2 separate regions of the Homo sapiens genome follow, and region 1 is linked to region 2. A link means that fine-mapping ties the variant in region 2 to the expression of a gene that starts in the linked region. Tissue or cell type: whole blood. Region 2 holds a variant in brackets; the other region holds the start of a gene. All regions are shown on one strand. Distances are from middle to middle.

Region 1 (8,092 bases), 150 kb after region 2:
TCAACCAAGGCTCAGGGGCACCAAGGCCTTTATCCCTGTTGGGTATTCCTTCCATTATGATGGGTACCCTTGCATTCTCCTTGCAAGTAATGAAGCCTATTTGATTCAAAAAATTCAAAATGCAGTCACAAAACTAGTTATAAAACATGAGGACATTTGCGGGGCTATTGAAAAACGTAGTAGCCGGGCGCGGTGGCTCACTCATGTAATCCCAGCAGTTTGGGAGGTCGAGGTGGGTGGATCATGAGGTCAGGAGTTCAAGACCAGTCTCTACTAAAACTACAAAAATTAGCTGGGCGCGGTGGCAGGTGCCTGTAATCCCAGCTACTCGAGAGTCTGAGGCAGGAGAATCATTTGAACCTGGGCAGCAGAGGTTACAGTGAGCCCAGATCGCGCCACTGCACTTCAGCCTGGGTGACAAGAGTGAGACTCCATCTCAAAGAAAAAAAAAAAACCAAAACCCAAAACCAAAACAAAACAAAAAACCCAAAAACGCATAGCATAGATATCCTACACGTGTCACACTCACCAATGCAGGTCCACAAGCAACCCACTAATGAACCTCCCTTTCCCTGAGAGCAAAATGCCAGCTTCTGCCTGGTATCAGCTCTAGCATTCGTGGGCTAATTTCAGAGGTCCTGGATTGTAGGTCCTGGATTCTGACATGTAGTAGTGAATGACCTTGGACAAATTACCTCACTGAGCGCCAGTTCTCTTATCTGTAAAATGGTGATGATAATAAAAACTATGTCATAGATAAGGAAAGTTAACATTTGCACATTTGTTGTATTTGCCACTCTGTGCAGACAGAAGGATAATGTGTGTGGAAGTGCTTTGAAAAGGGAAAGATCTATGCAAATATTAGTTGATAATATTTTTAGCCAATACATGACCAAAGAAGTAATACATCCAAAATCAAATAAACCTCCCAATACCTTCAGTCTTTAAAACCAAGCCCAGGTATGGATATCGGGATGTATTTACATTTCTGCAAAAGGTCCCCATACGCAAATCTCATTCTTAAATAAGGACAAATTACTCATTAGCTGAAGAGGAGAGAGGTCAAGTACCTGAGGAGGTTAGTCACATCAATCACCTGAGAGTTCAGCAGCATCCAACAGTGTTAGTTCCACGTGTTAACTTCCTGAAGAACCACAGGCTTGCACATCCAATTATGCTTCCTGTCCCTTTCCTCCCCCGTGCGGAATCAACTTCAGCTCATCAATGGGGTAGGAAAGCCTCCTTATTTCGCACCCTCCATGCTCCAGGCATCCAGGGAAATGCCCCTGCCACCCCTATCTCCCTTGAGTTCTTAGGGCTTCCTCCTCTAGCAAGGAGATTTCCCTTTCTAGTCCCGGGGGCAGCGGCACAGCCCGGCTCTGACCTCGCGGGAGCAGTCGCCTAAAAGAGGCTCCGCCCTTGGCCGCTTGGGGTGGCGCCCGCCAAACCCGCTCCTAAAAGGAGCCTCTCTCCCTCTGTCTGCTCTAAGCGCCTTGGGGGCCTAATCGCAGTCTCCACCTGGGTGCTGAACTTCCTTCTCCCCCGCTTGCTGTAGTCCAGTGCTGCTCTAACTTGACTTCACCTGACGGACTAATTAAAACAGATTGCTGGGCCCGCCCCCAGGGTTTCTGATTCAGTGGGGTTAGGATGGGGCCGAGAGCTTGCATTTCTAGCCAGTTCCCAGGAGATGGTGATGCTGCTGGTGCCGGGGCTCTCTTGGCGGAACCACTGCGTCTAGGCTAATGCAGCCCCAGGAAGGGCTCGCCCTATCCCTACGCCCACCCCCGCTGCTCTCCTGCCCTGAGCGCAATGTGAATGGGAATAGCCGCAGCAGCCCAGGAGGCTGGAGAACCAGAAGGCAGGACCTGAGGAGTTTAGGCTGTTTTATCTTGGGCGCCCCTGACCAGTTTGTGCAAGTCGTAAAGAAAGCAGGAAAGAAGCCTATGGGTCTTCAGTGTTACTGGGGTCTGTCATTCATTAGGGTCTACTCACCTCGTCTCTTCATTCAACACAGTGGTTGGTTGCTAGGTCTAGGGTTATGAGGTGAAAGACAGCGTGCTACCCTTCCAGGAGTTTGTAGTAACTGGGAAAGAAACATGCAAACCATTCCAGTGCCCAGCGCCGATGAGATAACTGTTCCTAGGCAGGGAGAGTCAAACTTCTGTGGAGGGAGAGTGGGTGGGGCTCTGGAATCATCTGAGCAGCTGGAGGTTTCATGGAACTGGCACTTATGACTTGCAGGATGAGTGGGAATTTGGCAGGTACAAGGGGTAGCTGAGAAGGGGTGGGGTGGGAAGGGTTTTTCCCCAGGCAGAAGGAATGAGCAACAGGACTGCCGAAGTGTAAGGTTCCAGAGGCCGGGAAGATATGACAGGCAGCTCTCTAGCCTGGCTGGGTTCCCTCCAACCTCTCTGGCGGCGCCTTCTCAGCTCCTGTCCCTCATGGGCTGGTATTCCCTGGGGCTCTGTCCTGGCAGCCTTTCCCTCTCACACTCCATATCCACCCTGGATGAGCTCCTCCACAACTGAGGCCTCGCTGTCTGCTCACTGATGGGGCCCAAATCTCAAACCCAGGCCTCACCCCCTCAGTTGCACACTCACTTTCACACGAATGTCTCCATCCCCAGGCATCCTTCCTTCTGCATTTTGTCACAGTGAATGGCACCAGCATTCACCCAGTTACCTAAACGAGAGGGCTTTATGAAATGACCCTCTCATAGATTGCTGGCAAAGAGTAAATGACACAGTAACTTGCTGGTGCCATTTACCCAGACAGAATACAAGAGGATGGCTGCTGGGCTCCTCTGAAAGTCCACAACTTACTAGCTGAGTGATCCTGGGCAAGTTATTTAATCTGTTTTCTTATCCATAAAATGGGTTTGATGATAGTACCTACCTCACAAGGTTGTCATATGGATTAAACAATATTAGTTGTTGTCATTCATTGAGCCCTATATTAAGTCTTTTACTTGGATTCCCTTGAAGATGGAGTACCTAGTCCAAGGTCACACTGTTACCAAGTGGCAGATTCAGGTTTGGAAGCCAGAGTTCTCTGGCTCCTGAGCCATCTTCTTCACCTCACTGTCACACTTTCTGAAAACTGTATACCAAACAGGGAAATGCCTATGGTACAATGTTAAGTTAAAAGAGGATGGCAAATTGTATAATCAGTGTGAGTAAATCCACAAATAGGAAAGGCTACAAGGAAATATAGCAAATGGTTAAATATGGTTGTAATTTGGTGATTTTTCCCCTCTAGTATCTGTAGTCTCCACGTCTTCTTTATACACATTTTTTATTAATAAAGTTGCTTATTAAAAATATATTACATTAAAAACAATTACGAGTCTGCAACCTGTTCCCCTGTTTGAAAATTGCACTCTCTTGGTTTTTCGTCTCGGTTCTAGTCTTACTACCCTGAACAGAAACTCTTCAGTCCTCCCAAAGGCCATGGTAGGAAGTGGATATTGCAGCCATGTTCACCCCCACCCACTCCCTCGCTGACAACCTGGACCCTGGAGCAGGCTGTCAAAATCAGAGGGAAGTTCCAGATAGAACCCGGGCTGCTTTACCGCCTAGGGCTTTCTGGACAGCGCTACTTCAGATCAGTTACTTTTTTTTCTTTCTTTCTAAATAGCCGGCCGAATGCTCTTTTTCCAGTTCTGGCTAAGCTGTTAGCTGCAGCCGGGCGGCGACGCCTGCCAGGTACCTGGCTCCGTGAGCACCGCCCAAACTGGTCAGGCCAGTCCGTCCTGTGGCTGTTTCTGCCAGGACTCGCCCGAGTGTGTGTGTGCGCGTGTATGTCAGAGACCCACCCTGCTCCCCTGCAACCGAGGTAGGTGGAAGGCAGTTGCAGGCACCAGCCTGGCAGTCAGGCCAGATGGGTGGGGCTGAATTAATCTAACCTGGAATTTCAACTTGGCCTGCACAACAGGTGAGGGAAAAAAGCAGCAGAGAGAACGGGCAGTTTGGCAACTTGGAAATATTCCTGAGCCCTGCCCCTTACCCCCTGCCTGGAACGTAGCCCAGGGTGACTCTTCAAAGTGTCTGCGCCGGGTTTTAGGGCTTAGTCGCCCCACGGCCCCCTCGAGGCTGTCCGAGGCCCTCCTGAACGCTGTCCTCCTCAGTTACCCTCCGCGACGCGCCCGTTCCCCCTCCTCTGGGAGGCAGGGCGGGGGTATCGGATTAGTCTTTGTTTTCGACGCGAAAGAATCGAGCGCGGCGCGGGGGAGGCTGGTGATGGCAGGGCCGTGGGGTCCACCTGGACAGGGCATTCGGCCGTGACCCCTGCGAGGGTGCCCTTAGCCTCTGCCCCCGAGCAACCCCTTCTTGCCGGCCAGGCTGACTCGGTACGCAAACGCGCGATGTCCCCCATTGTCCTGCCTCGGAATGAGCCAGCGGCAGCTGGGACAGGGGGGTCAGTCGGGCCCGGCGCTCAGGCCTCCCGGGGGCGCCGGGGCTGTCCCGGACAGATCTGGCCCGCAGGGAGTGGCAGGAAGTGGGGACACCGAGCGAGGCTCGGCCGAGGGCCTAGGCTGGAAGGTCCGCGTGCCCCACCCCGCCTCGCCGGCCCCGGCTGCAGCCCCGCCGGAGGGCGAGGGTGGCCAACCCGAAGGGGGCGGCCGCCTCCCGGGAGGGCCGACCGCGTGGGTGGGAGCCACTGCAGGTGCAGAGAAGCGGCGGCCGGGCCGGAGCCTGCCCCAAGCCGCTCGCAGGCCGCCCACCCGACCCCTCCCCTCCGCGGGAACCACCCCCCTCTCGCCCGGCCCGGGGCCCGGCCGGGCCGGCGGGGCTCGGCGGGGCCGCACGTGTGCGCCCTCCCGGGCGGGGGAGTCCCCGGGCGAGCACGTGCCGCGGTGCGCGGGGGGCGGGGAGTCCCGCGGACGCCTTCATTGCTGCTGCTGCTGCCGCCGCGGCCGCCGCTGCCTCTTCCTTCCTCCTGCGCCGTCCCCTCCTCGGCCCGGGCGGGGGGCTCCGCGCGCTGAGCTCGGTCGGGCCGGGCGCTCCGGGAGGCGGGAGCCCCAGGCGGCGGCGGCGGCGGCCGCGACGGTGGTGGCGGCGGCGGCGCGGGCCGGGAAACTTTGCCCCTTTGTGCGCTCCGCCCCGGAGGCGGCGGGCAGGTCGGTGCAGTCGGTGCCTTTCCGGCTCCGGAGTGGGGGAGGGGCGGCGGGAGGCGCGGGGGGCCCGGCCCGGGGGAGGGGGAGGGGACGGCCCGGATCCGGCGGGGGGCCGCTCCTCCGGTGCGGGGGGCCGGACTGGGGTGCTGCGGGGCGCTGTGCGGCTGAGCCGGGCGGGGGTGGCGGGGCGGGGGCGGGGGCTGCGAAGCCGCCGGAGCGGAGTGGCGGAGGCCCCAGAACAAAGGAGCCCGAGCGGCGGCGCGCGCGCGGCCCGGCCCGCGGCTCGAGCGCGCCCCCCTCCCCGCGCCCCTCGGCGGCGCGGGCCGCCCTCCCCAGTCGGGCTGGCGGGCTGCGCTCCGGCGGCGGGCGCGGCGGGCGCGGGCTGCCCAGGGCGCGCCCCCACCTCCAGGCGGCTTCCGTGCCGGGGGCGCCGGGGCAGTCCCGCCGAGCGAGGCTCTCAGCAAACTTTATTTTGAAAGCTCAGCTCCCTAGGGAGGGCCCGGCGGCCTCCAGCCAGGGCGTGTGGGGGAATTTTGGTGAAACTCTCACCAGCCCGTGGGGGTGGGGAAGAGGGCAACTTTCTTAGAAATCTCACCTTGATCACCCCCTTGAATCCAGGGCCCCCAGCAGCCCTCAGGCCCGAGGCCGCCTCCCTCAGACAGGGAGCGGGTGCTGGGTGCGTCCTGCCTGAGGTTCTGGGCAGGACCTCAATTGAGCAAGCCCCATCTCTTCCCCCATTTTCTCTTCCCAGAAACAGGAAGAAGTGACACGTGAAAGTTGTCCCTGAGCCCCGAGTGATGCGCTTCCCCTTTCTGTCTTTTTCAGGCAGCACTGCCTTCTCCAGCGTCCAGACCCTGGAGGAAAAATACCAGGAGAAACTGCTCACTCAGCTCTGCCCCCACCACACCCCTACCTGCTCAACTCATGCCTGGGTCCAGGGTGGGTGAGGGTGAAGAACCCACCGGGCCAAGATGATCCCTTTTCTGAGGGCTGCTGCTGGTGTCCTCCCCCAGATCCTGGGCCCCAGCAGGTGGGAGAGTGGCCCCCTACGGAGTCCGATCAGACTGCTGCAGAGGAGGTGAAGAGGGGTTGAGAAGAGGCATCCATCCACGAGACTGAAGCCACTTGCCTTCACCCTTGTAGACTCTTGACTGTTCTAGGCGAGAAGGACCTGTTGGTGGCCTTTGGAGGTGGCAGGAAACGACTGTGGTTCTGCCCCAGCACCTATGACCCCACCTCTGGCAGCATCATGAGCCAGTTTCAGGTGCCCCTGGCCGTCCAGCCGGACCTGCCAGGCCTTTATGACTTCCCTCAGCGCCAGGTGATGGTAGGGAGCTTCCCGGGGTCTGGGCTCTCCATGGCTGGGAGTGAGTCCCAACTCCGAGGGGGTGGAGATGGTCGAAAGAAACGGAAACGGTGTGGTACTTGTGAGCCCTGCCGGCGGCTGGAAAACTGTGGCGCTTGCACTAGCTGTACCAACCGCCGCACGCACCAGATCTGCAAACTGCGAAAATGTGAGGTGCTGAAGAAAAAAGTAGGGCTTCTCAAGGAGGTAAGCCGGCCCTTGCTGGGCTACCCTGTTCCTTCCTCGAGGGCACGGTGATCACGGGGGTCTTGTTCAAGCAAGGCTCGTCCAGTTGAGTCCATTCTCTCATTTCTGATCCTCTTGGTCCAACTTTAAGTAGGAGTGTAACTGACATGTTTGGACTCCTTTGCAGGGCTGACAATTTGTATGAGTAACTGGGTAGAAGGGGGATCTGAGCTAGCACCCTCATCTCTGATGTTTGCATTTGAGGCGGGACTGTGATGTCTACCTTTACCTCTAGAAGTTTCTTGTCCTGCTGCTTGAAGCCTCAGATGTTGTATTTCAAGCTCATGCTAATGCTTGGATGACTTGGTCAGTGAGGGTGTAAGATAAGAGATGGAGGCTGATGGATTTGGAGACAAAGTTTTGGATTGACAGGGTGGTTTTATGATGCCCTGATGGAGTGGGATGTTTCTTTCATCGTTTTTCTCAGATGGCCAGAGAGCCAGTTGAAACTGTTGGGGAATCTAGTGACGAACTGATGTTTTGGGTTCCCCTATCTTAGTTCTTCTTGCGGTCAAAAACTTTATTTCTGTGTTCTCGGGACCTGGCACAATTCCTTGGCAGGTAGTAGGCACTCAGATACTAATTGCATGAATGGATGACATGCTTTTGAGACACTGTCAACCCCAGGGAGGTGTACTCCCTTTATTTGGGGTAGTAGGGTGGAGGAGGGAAGGAGATTTGGGGTGAGAGCAGGCAGGGTGGGAAGGAATGGGAGAGACCATGACCTTGCATTGGCCGTCTTTCCCTCCCATTATAGTGGCGGACTGCCGGCTTGAGGTTGGTGACAGCCGCGACAGCAGAGAGTTGGCAGAAGTAGGGCTGAGCGAAGTTGAGCAGCTTAGGAGGAGCGGTGTAGCCGCTGAGGTCGCTCCAGGCAGTAGAACTGGCGCTGGACAGAGACGGAGGCCTGCGCTGTCTTCGAGCTCCCCCTGGCTCTGCCATTCATTTGTCCAAGGGCCCAGACAACTCGGGCCCCCTCTCTGGGCCTGTCTTTTCCTTGGGGGAAGTGGAAGAGTTGTACTTGATGGCTTTCAAAGCCTCTTCCAGCTGGGCTGGGAGCTGCTTGCTTCTGAGGACTCGGGTCCCTGTGGCTGGCGTTGGGCTGGCAGCCCGTGCTCTGGGTTTCCCTGACCGCTGAGTGCAGAGCCTCACAGCGAGCTGGTGGGGCTGGTCCCGTGGCTAGGAAGAAAGATTCAAGTGTTGAGGACAGGGACATGGGGTTGCTGGATATTTCTGCCCCTTCTCACCTTGTCTTGTCCGTGCCTTGTGGAAGCTGTATGTCCTGACCCAGGGACTGCAGACTCGGGGCCCTGTTTCCCTTGTTTCTGGTTAAAGCAGACATCTGGATCACATATGCAGCCCCCAGCCCCAGCCTGGGAGACTTC
Region 2 (8,104 bases):
TCATTTTGGGGACAGTGAGACAATATTTATCTCAACAACATTTGAACATTCAACAATGTTCATTGAGTGTCACATCTGGTTTCGCAAGCCATTCTAGGCAGTGGGGATAGAGCTGTGAGCAAGGCAGAAAAGGATCTTAACTTTCTGGAAATTATATTCTAGTGGGGAATGAAAGACAATAAGCAACCCAAATCATATCAGACAGTGGTAAGGATTATCAAGACAATTAAAATAAGACCAACTAATGAAGGATGACTGGGTGGCTCCTTAGAATGGGTGGTCAGAGAAGTTCTCCTTGAGGAGGTAACATGTAAACTGAGAAATGAATGATGAGGCAGAGCCAGCCAAGTGAAGATGAGGGTAAAAGCATCCCAGGAAAAGGAGTCAGCTATGCAAAGGTCTTGAGTGGAAAAGCAGATGTTTGGATGGTGTCGGTGGAGAGTATTAAGCAAGGAGATTGGGAGATGAAGTCAGAAAGGCAACAGGGGCCGAGTCACTCTGTAATCCCCAGTAAGGAGTGTGGATGTTTATTCCAAGTGCCATGGGAATTCACTGAAGAGTTTTAAGCCGAGGAGTGATGGAATCTGATTTTTGCTTTAAAAAGATCATTAGTGGCCAGGCGTGATGGCTCACACCTGTAATCCCAGCACTTTGGGAGGCTGAGGTGGGTGGATCACTTGAGGTCAGGAGTTCAAGACCAGCGTGGCCAACATGGCAAAACCCTGTCTCTACTAAAAAATACAAAAATTAGCCAAGTTTGGTGGCGAGCACCTATAATCCCAGCTACTCAGGAGGTTGAGGCAGGGAGAATTGCTTGAACCTGGGAGGTGGAGGTTGCAGCCGAGATTGTGCCACTGCACTCCAGCCTGGGTGACAGAGCAAGACTTCATCTCAAAAAAAAAAAAAATTAGCTGCTGTTGTAAGAATGCATTGTAGTAGGTAAGAATGAACGCCCTTCCTGTACTAATGCAATTGTCCCTCTAGGTATGTCACTTAACACAAGAGTACCAACCTTGCAAGTGAAATACACCTAGAGTCTTCCTTGTTTTTACCCTCCCTGACCCCCGAACTCCGCTGGGTCTGTATTTTTCCTTTTCTTCTTTTTGCTTTTTAGCAATAGGAGTCTCACTATGTTGCCCAGGCTGGAATGCAGTGGCTATTCACAGGTGAGATCATAGCACACCACAGCCTTAAACTCCTGGGCTCAAGTGATCCTCCTGGGTTTTTTGTTTGTTTTGTTTTGTTTTGTTTTTTTAGAGGTCTCACTCTGTTGCCCAGGCTGGAGAGCAGTGGTGTAATCATAGCTCACTATATCCTCGAACTCCTGGGCTCAAGCGATCCTCCTGTCTCAGCCTTCCAAAGTGCTGGGATTACAGGCGTGAGCCAGCGCACCTGGTCCAGGCCTGTGTTTTCTAAACCCCGATGTTACATTTCAGATTAAGAACTTCACCTTCTAGGCATCTTTTGCTGCTGCCCAAAAATGAGCAAGTAGGAATGAGCATGCAGGAGTGCAGGAGACCTGACGTTGGCATATGCAAGCGGCCAGATGGAGGCTGCTATATTCAGGAAAAGTGTTCATGGCTGGGAGTGAGCACCGGAAGGAAAGAGCATCTCAATTCCTAACCTGGTCTAGTCTGCCAGGTGAACTGCTGAAGCCTATTTGCTGAAGGAATACCTTCCACGCTTAGCCTCCAATCTTTAGGGCAGGGGTAGGTAGGATATTCTCATCAGTTATGCCAAGAATCTTTTATAGCTTTGATTTCCTGATTGTGTATACAAAATTGTTTAGTTTTTAAACTTTTCCAGTTAAACAAGAAATGAGGAATGTAAAATTTTTACCTTGGCCAAGATTTTCTTATTTCAGGTCCCTAGAAAGCTGAGTATTGAACTTTGCCCCAGATATCAAAAACTCTGGTCAACATTTACAAATTCTCTCCCTAAAAAGACTAGATCCTGCTTCCTATATTCACTTAGCTATTACCTTAAGAACTGCTAGCAACTGGGCATATTAACTTTCTAATATCAGGAACAGCCTCTATGTGGCGCTAGCTATGTTTACGACTATGCACACCCCTTATATGTGTGTCTCAGTTATAGCTTCTTAAAGTCTTCTCATCATAATCTTAAAATCTAGGATGTTTGTAAATTTTCTTTACTTGTTAAGCTAAACATTATAAAAAAAAGAACTACTTTAGAGATTGTGCTGAATGGGAGCAGATGCCCCTCCCTACCCCACCAGCTGTACTTCTACCTGTGCTTCCACCATTAGAGTATCCACCTGCTGGGTTTGTTTGCTGATGTATCCCTAACACCTAGAACAGAACCTGGCACATAGTAGACACTCAGTAAACATTTACTGAGTGAGAGGTTGAATGGATCAGATTTTGACCTGTGTTGCCTCCTGCCAGGACCCCATCTGCACTATAATGCCCACCCAATGACCAGCATCTCCAGTGCATCAATTTCTTTAGGCCCAACCCATCATGTTTACATTCTGAAGAGAGTCAGTAGAGAGAGTTTTGAAGACACAGTAGAGTGCCCTATACAATTATCTTCCCAGATTTATCTGCAGTAGATCCATGAGAGTTGATAGTAGACCCATGCACATTAATGCTTGCTGGGGGCAGAAGGGGAGGTGATATGATGCAAGCAAGTACTTTCAACCCTAAGTCTGAAAAGTTGATGACTACACAAAATCACTTCAGGTAACTCCAACAGAAATATACACAACGGAGGTTGGGAGAAATGAGAGATCTGGAGGCTGGCTAGGTGGAGGAGGCAACACCTGAATTAGGGATTTAAGCTAGACCTTGAAGAATAGGTCATGCCATCACACTAACAAACTCACAGGGAGGCTCCCAAATTTTGGGAAAGTGTCCCCCAGAGACTTAGACTTTTAAACCAAAGCCTAATGTTTCACAAAGTCTTCTGAGACAGAATGATTAGCAAGCTTGTAGGACCTTTTTGTAAAGAGGATGTATATGGATTCGTACAGACACACATCTACATGCAGAACGTGCCATTCTGTATTTGATGCATAAAACCACCTTGTCCCGGTCTCAGGGCAGGAACAGTGTCATACAGATTTTTGTGTCTCCACTGCTTTTGCATAGCGGCTCTTAGAGATTAAACGCTTTTTTTCCAAATATTTTATAGGTTTTTTGACATTAAAACGTTAGTCTCATCTGGGTGCGGTGGCACACGCCAGTAATCCCAGTACTTTGGGAGGCAGAGGCAAGAAGATCGCTTGAGCCCTGAAGTTGGAGACCACAGTGAGCTATGATCACACCACTGCACTCCTGTGACAGCCTGGGTGACACCGCAAGACCCTGTCTTAAAAAAAAAAAAAGTTAGACTTATGTTCTTTTCTAAGCAATAAAATTAGTCTTAGATATTGCCTAATATCTAAGACTACCAATTTTTGTGTAGAATGTAATACAAGCTAAAAAATACATTCGAAAGACTTTCTGTCCCCCAATTTATAAATCCTGGTTAGTTTAGCTAAGTCTGCAGTTGTGCTGGGATCAGCAATCCCTCCTTAAATGCAGGAGTATTGTGAGTGTGATGAGGGACTACCCCAAATCAAAATAATTTTAAAAGCAAACCTTAGCTTGCTAATTGGTTCCACTTTCTTCCTTGTTCCTTTTCCTTTACCAAGATGGCCGCTGTGTCGTTCGCTCCTCATTGGTCGGATTTTCCGCAGGTGCCGATTCTAGCCCCACCTACTAGCTCTCCGTTCCAAGTCCTAAATCACTGGGAATGTAATAGACAGACGAACGGGAGTGGGCGGAGCGGGCGCCGGATGTGACGTTTCCGGAACCTCCGGGTGTCATCCGCGGGGAAAGGTGGGGAAGGGTCCCGGGAACGTGGTGGGGCAGGGCCTCCGAGCGTGGTTGGACTTTGAAGGGGATCGGCCGCCGTGAGTGTGGGGCCTGCAGCCTACTCTCCCCGAGTCCCCTGCCCGGCCTGCCTCGCTCGAGGCACCCGACGGCTTCTGTCTCCGCGGGCTGGCGCCTGACCAGCCAGGCCCAGCGGTTCCCCGCCTACTGCATTTGAAAGATCCCGAAAACCCTGGATGATTGTGCCTGGGGTTGGCAAGTTCGTCTTGAGTGCCTTCAAGAAGGGTTCCTCAAGCAGTTGTCGATAGAGCCCTCCCTACTGTATACGCCCCCTCCGCTCATTCCTGCTACTTCCTTTCTCCTCCTCGTATTTCCCCCTCGGTCCTTTACGCCGCCTTTCCCCCTCATTTGCAGATGCTGCAT[C/T]CCCTTTTTGGAATTGCTCAACCAGGTGGTAACCGGCGCCGCTTCCTGGCCTTGGGAGGTGGTTCCTTTCTTAACCCACAAGAACCTCTCCCAAGAGGTACTGAGATGCAACAAGCATCCTCTGTTTCAGTTAACTTTCATGGGCCGTGGACTAGGTTTACTAATTACTTGGGGAGGTTTTAGATATGCTTGCGGCTTTCTGAGTCCCTAAGGAGGCCTCGTGAGAGATGGACTATCTCTGCATCCCTAGTAGTCCTCACGGCTTTTGTGCTATTAGTGAGGGTGTTTTAGAGGGGAAGGTTTGTGGAGGAATTGTGACCCGAATATTGAAGAGACCTAAAGATGGAATTGGCTGAGAGAAGACTACCCCTGAGGGAAGAGTTGTAGTAGAAAAGAAAAACTGGATAGATAAATGAAACTGAAATGTGAGGATGCCTGGGCGGATTGGAATCCTGACTGAAGCAAAAGATCTCTGTTGGGGAGGGCCAGTTGCCACAGGGCCTTGAATTCCAAGATTTATTCTACTGTAGTTTGTGTATTCTAGAGCATACTGATTAGGGTTTGCTGTAATGCAATGTGTGTCAAATGCCCAGTTTTATTTTGGAGATGATAGTGGTGATATCTGGTTGGAATTTGGAATCTGATTCTAACAGCAACTATATCTAGAAAGACTAGAATTACTGGAGTTTTGGGACACCAGGGGTTTTTGCAATGCAAGTTACCATCGTGCCTTTTTGTTATTCAGTGTTTAGTCTATGAAGATGAGTAAATGGTTGTTTTCAAGATTTAAGTCTCTTGCCATGATAATGATGAATGAATGATTTTATAGATTGACTATAGTGGTTTAGTGAGCAGAGTTACAATTATGAGCATTAATTCCCAGACCAGTTCCCCTAACTCACCTTGTGCTCAAATATGAAAAAGGATACCACAGAAAATGTCAGTTACTCTCAGATTAAGTAAAAATGGTCAACCTTGAAGTTAGTTAACAATCCTCAAGAAAGTTCACTGAGTGCACTCTGCCAGGTACTGGGGTGGAGGTATGTGGGTATCTGGAAGGAGAAATAATAGAAAATAAAAGATGCTGTTCCCACTTTTACAGTGCTGTGGGCGGAGCCCCCTAATGGCAAAGGATTTGATTAACTTGAACTGAACCTTTGGTTGGTCCACTGTGGTTCTACTCCTTATACCACCTAATTATGGTACAGGGGTTGTATGTTTTCTAGTCTGCCAGTACTCTCATCGTTGTGATTTGGGCTTCCTTGAGGGTCTCAGCCTTCTTGTAGGAAAGTCCTTATTTAATAGGAGCCACAGCATTTGGTATGTTTCTCTTATATTTTCTTCTTAAGGTAGAGGTCTGTGAGATAAACTGTAAAACTGCTGGGATGATGAGGGCAACGGTATTGATGCCATCTGTTTTTTCTGTCTCAGAACTTGGTCCTGATGTCTGACCATGGAGATGTGAGCCTCCCGCCCGAAGACCGGGTGAGGGCTCTCTCCCAGCTGGGTAGTGCGGTAGAGGTGAATGAAGACATTCCACCCCGTCGGTACTTCCGCTCTGGAGTTGAGATTATCCGAATGGCATCCATTTACTCTGAGGAAGGCAACATTGAACATGCCTTCATCCTCTATAACAAGTATATCACGTAAGACACCTACAGTTTCCTTTTTCCTTTCTGGTGACTGGTGCCTCGCCTATTTGGCTCAGAATTGCTAAAACCACAGAACTTCACAATATCATCAACATTAATCATTTTTGCTGGCAACTCCTACATATTGGCTGTCCTTGCCGTTCAAAGACATGAGTGCTGAAGGTGTTATTTTCATGACTCAGTAATTTATGAGTAAGAGATTTAGTTCTTTGGCCTATGCCCACATAGCCCAGCTGTTAGACAAAAGAGTTGGTGGTTAAACTAGACATATTATGTTCTGATGAATGCTTTTACTGTTCTCTTTCTACTAAAGCAGCCAATCATAGGATTATTGTTGGGGTCTAGCAGAGCCAAAATTCCTCACTTGTACTTATTTTGTAGCAAATTTAGTGATACAGGAAAAAATTTTTTCCTCTTAACCTTTATCATAATCATGCAAATCATCAAATAATTAGTAACTGCCTACAGTTTGTGTGGCTCATCATAATAAGACCTTTCCCTTAAGTTATTTATCATCTTAGGGTAGGCAGCATAAGTAGAAGATTTCAGTACTATTAACAGCAAACAACTTCTAAAACTCCATTGACAATGATACATAATTTAGAAAGGAAATAATGTTAAAGGTCTTATTTATCATTTCTAATCTTGTTCTTTCACAATATCAGGACTTTTTAAAAAATAATTATAATGTATTTGGTTCTGAGTAGCTCATAGTGTGTTTCACCTGCATAATTTCATTTGATCTTCACAGTTCTGTGTGCATGGAATAGGGTACACTACCCTACATTCTACATATGAGGAAACAAACTCAGTGTTTGGTGGATGCTCATGTTTGAAGTGACAAAACCTTGGTTTTCTGACTCCTAATTCAGGATTTGTTCTACAACATAGGTCCTGTTCTTCTTGTTTTCCATTTAGTAATGTTCTAGAGTCAGAGGTAGTCTTTTGAGATCATAGTCATGAGCCACACTGGCTATTTTTTTGTTATTTATTTTACTACTGATTTTTGAGTAGGTAACATATATATATATATATATATATATACACATATATATGGTGCACAATTCAGAGGCACAAAAGAATAACTATAGTTAAAAAGTAAGTCTTGGCCAGGCGCAGTGGCTCTCGCCTGTAATCCCAGCACTTTGGGAGGCCAGGGCAGGCGGATCACCTGAGGTCAAGAGTTCAAGACCAGCTTGGCCAACATGGCAAAACCCCATCTCTACTAAAAATACAAAAATTAGTCGGGCATGGTGGCGTGTGCCTGTAATCCCAGCTACTTGGGAGGCTAAGGCAGGAGAATCGCTTGAAACCAGGAGGCAGAGGTTGTAGTGAGCCGAGATCGTGCCACTGCACTCCAGGACTCCAGACTAGGTGGCAAAGCGAGACTGTTTCAAAAAAAAAAAAAAAAGTCTCCCCACCCACTCCTCTTTTCCCCCCAAACCCTCAGTGCTTCTCCCCAGAGACAACCACTCTTAGTAGTTTCTTAGATATCTTCCAAGAGATGATATACACATACCAGTTTTATCACATTAAGTTTTTGATCACATACTCCTCTAAAGCAGGGCTTTTCAACTTTGGCCCTATTGACCTTTTGGACTGAATCATTATTTGTGGTGGGAGCTGTCCTGTGTGTCACAGAATGTTTAGCAGCATCCCTGGTTTCTGCTCACCAGATGCCAGTATCCCCCCTCCCCGCAGTGTGACAACCAAAAATGTCACCAGACATTATCTGATGTTCTCCCAGGGGCAGAATCACCTCTGAGAACCAGTGCTCCAAAGGAAAGTATGCGGAAGAATGGACTGTCTAGGATTCATATTGTAATTGTAGAGTGGAGAAATGGGACTGCTATTGTCTTTTTTATTTAGAAGTGTTGCCTGTGTTAAGAGGAGAAAACCTTAGACAAGTTAAATTTAACAGAGTTTAATCCAGTAGAAAAAGGTTCAGGGAACACTCAGGACCAAAAGTGGTGCAGAATGTTCCACCCCATAGTGGAGGTTGTGCAGGCTATATTTATAGTCAGAGAAAAGGAAATGAGATACAGAAATAGCCTGATTGGCTACAGTTATGTGTTTGCCTTATTTGGTCATGTTTTGGCAGGCTTTAGCCTCCAATTGGCTGGAGGTTTCAGCTGCTATGATTGGCTGAGACTCAGCTATTTGTTACACTTGTAACCTAACTCTTATGTT

Evidence for each region. PIP is the estimated chance that this variant, and not a neighbour inherited with it, causes the effect.
Region 1: TET3 starts here. The variant in region 2 is fine-mapped to the expression of TET3 in whole blood (TOPMed, PIP 0.96).

What each region holds. Positions count from the first base shown.
Region 1 is chr2:73,980,039-73,988,130 of GRCh38, forward strand. It overlaps TET3 (tet methylcytosine dioxygenase 3), which reads left to right and starts at 4,872. Exons shown (of 12, transcript NM_001287491.2): 1 at 4,872-5,119; 2 at 5,942-6,668. The coding sequence starts at 6,366. DGUOK-AS1 (DGUOK antisense RNA 1) reads right to left here and starts at 1,401. Exons shown (of 2, transcript NR_104030.1): 1 at 1,097-1,401. RefSeq lists enhancers at 3,248-4,171, 6,065-6,294 and silencers at 4,345-5,034, 4,793-4,991, 5,415-5,584.
Region 2 is chr2:73,825,152-73,833,255 of GRCh38, forward strand. STAMBP (STAM binding protein) reads left to right here and starts at 3,810. Exons shown (of 10, transcript NM_213622.4): 1 at 3,810-4,359; 2 at 5,694-5,908. The coding sequence starts at 5,706. It overlaps LOC105374807 (a long non-coding RNA gene), which reads right to left and starts at 5,247. Exons shown (of 3, transcript XR_940246.3): 1 at 5,165-5,247; 2 at 3,606-3,753. RefSeq lists a silencer at 3,581-3,799 and enhancers at 5,307-6,506, 8,022-8,104. The variant C/T (reference allele first, on the strand shown) is at 4,263.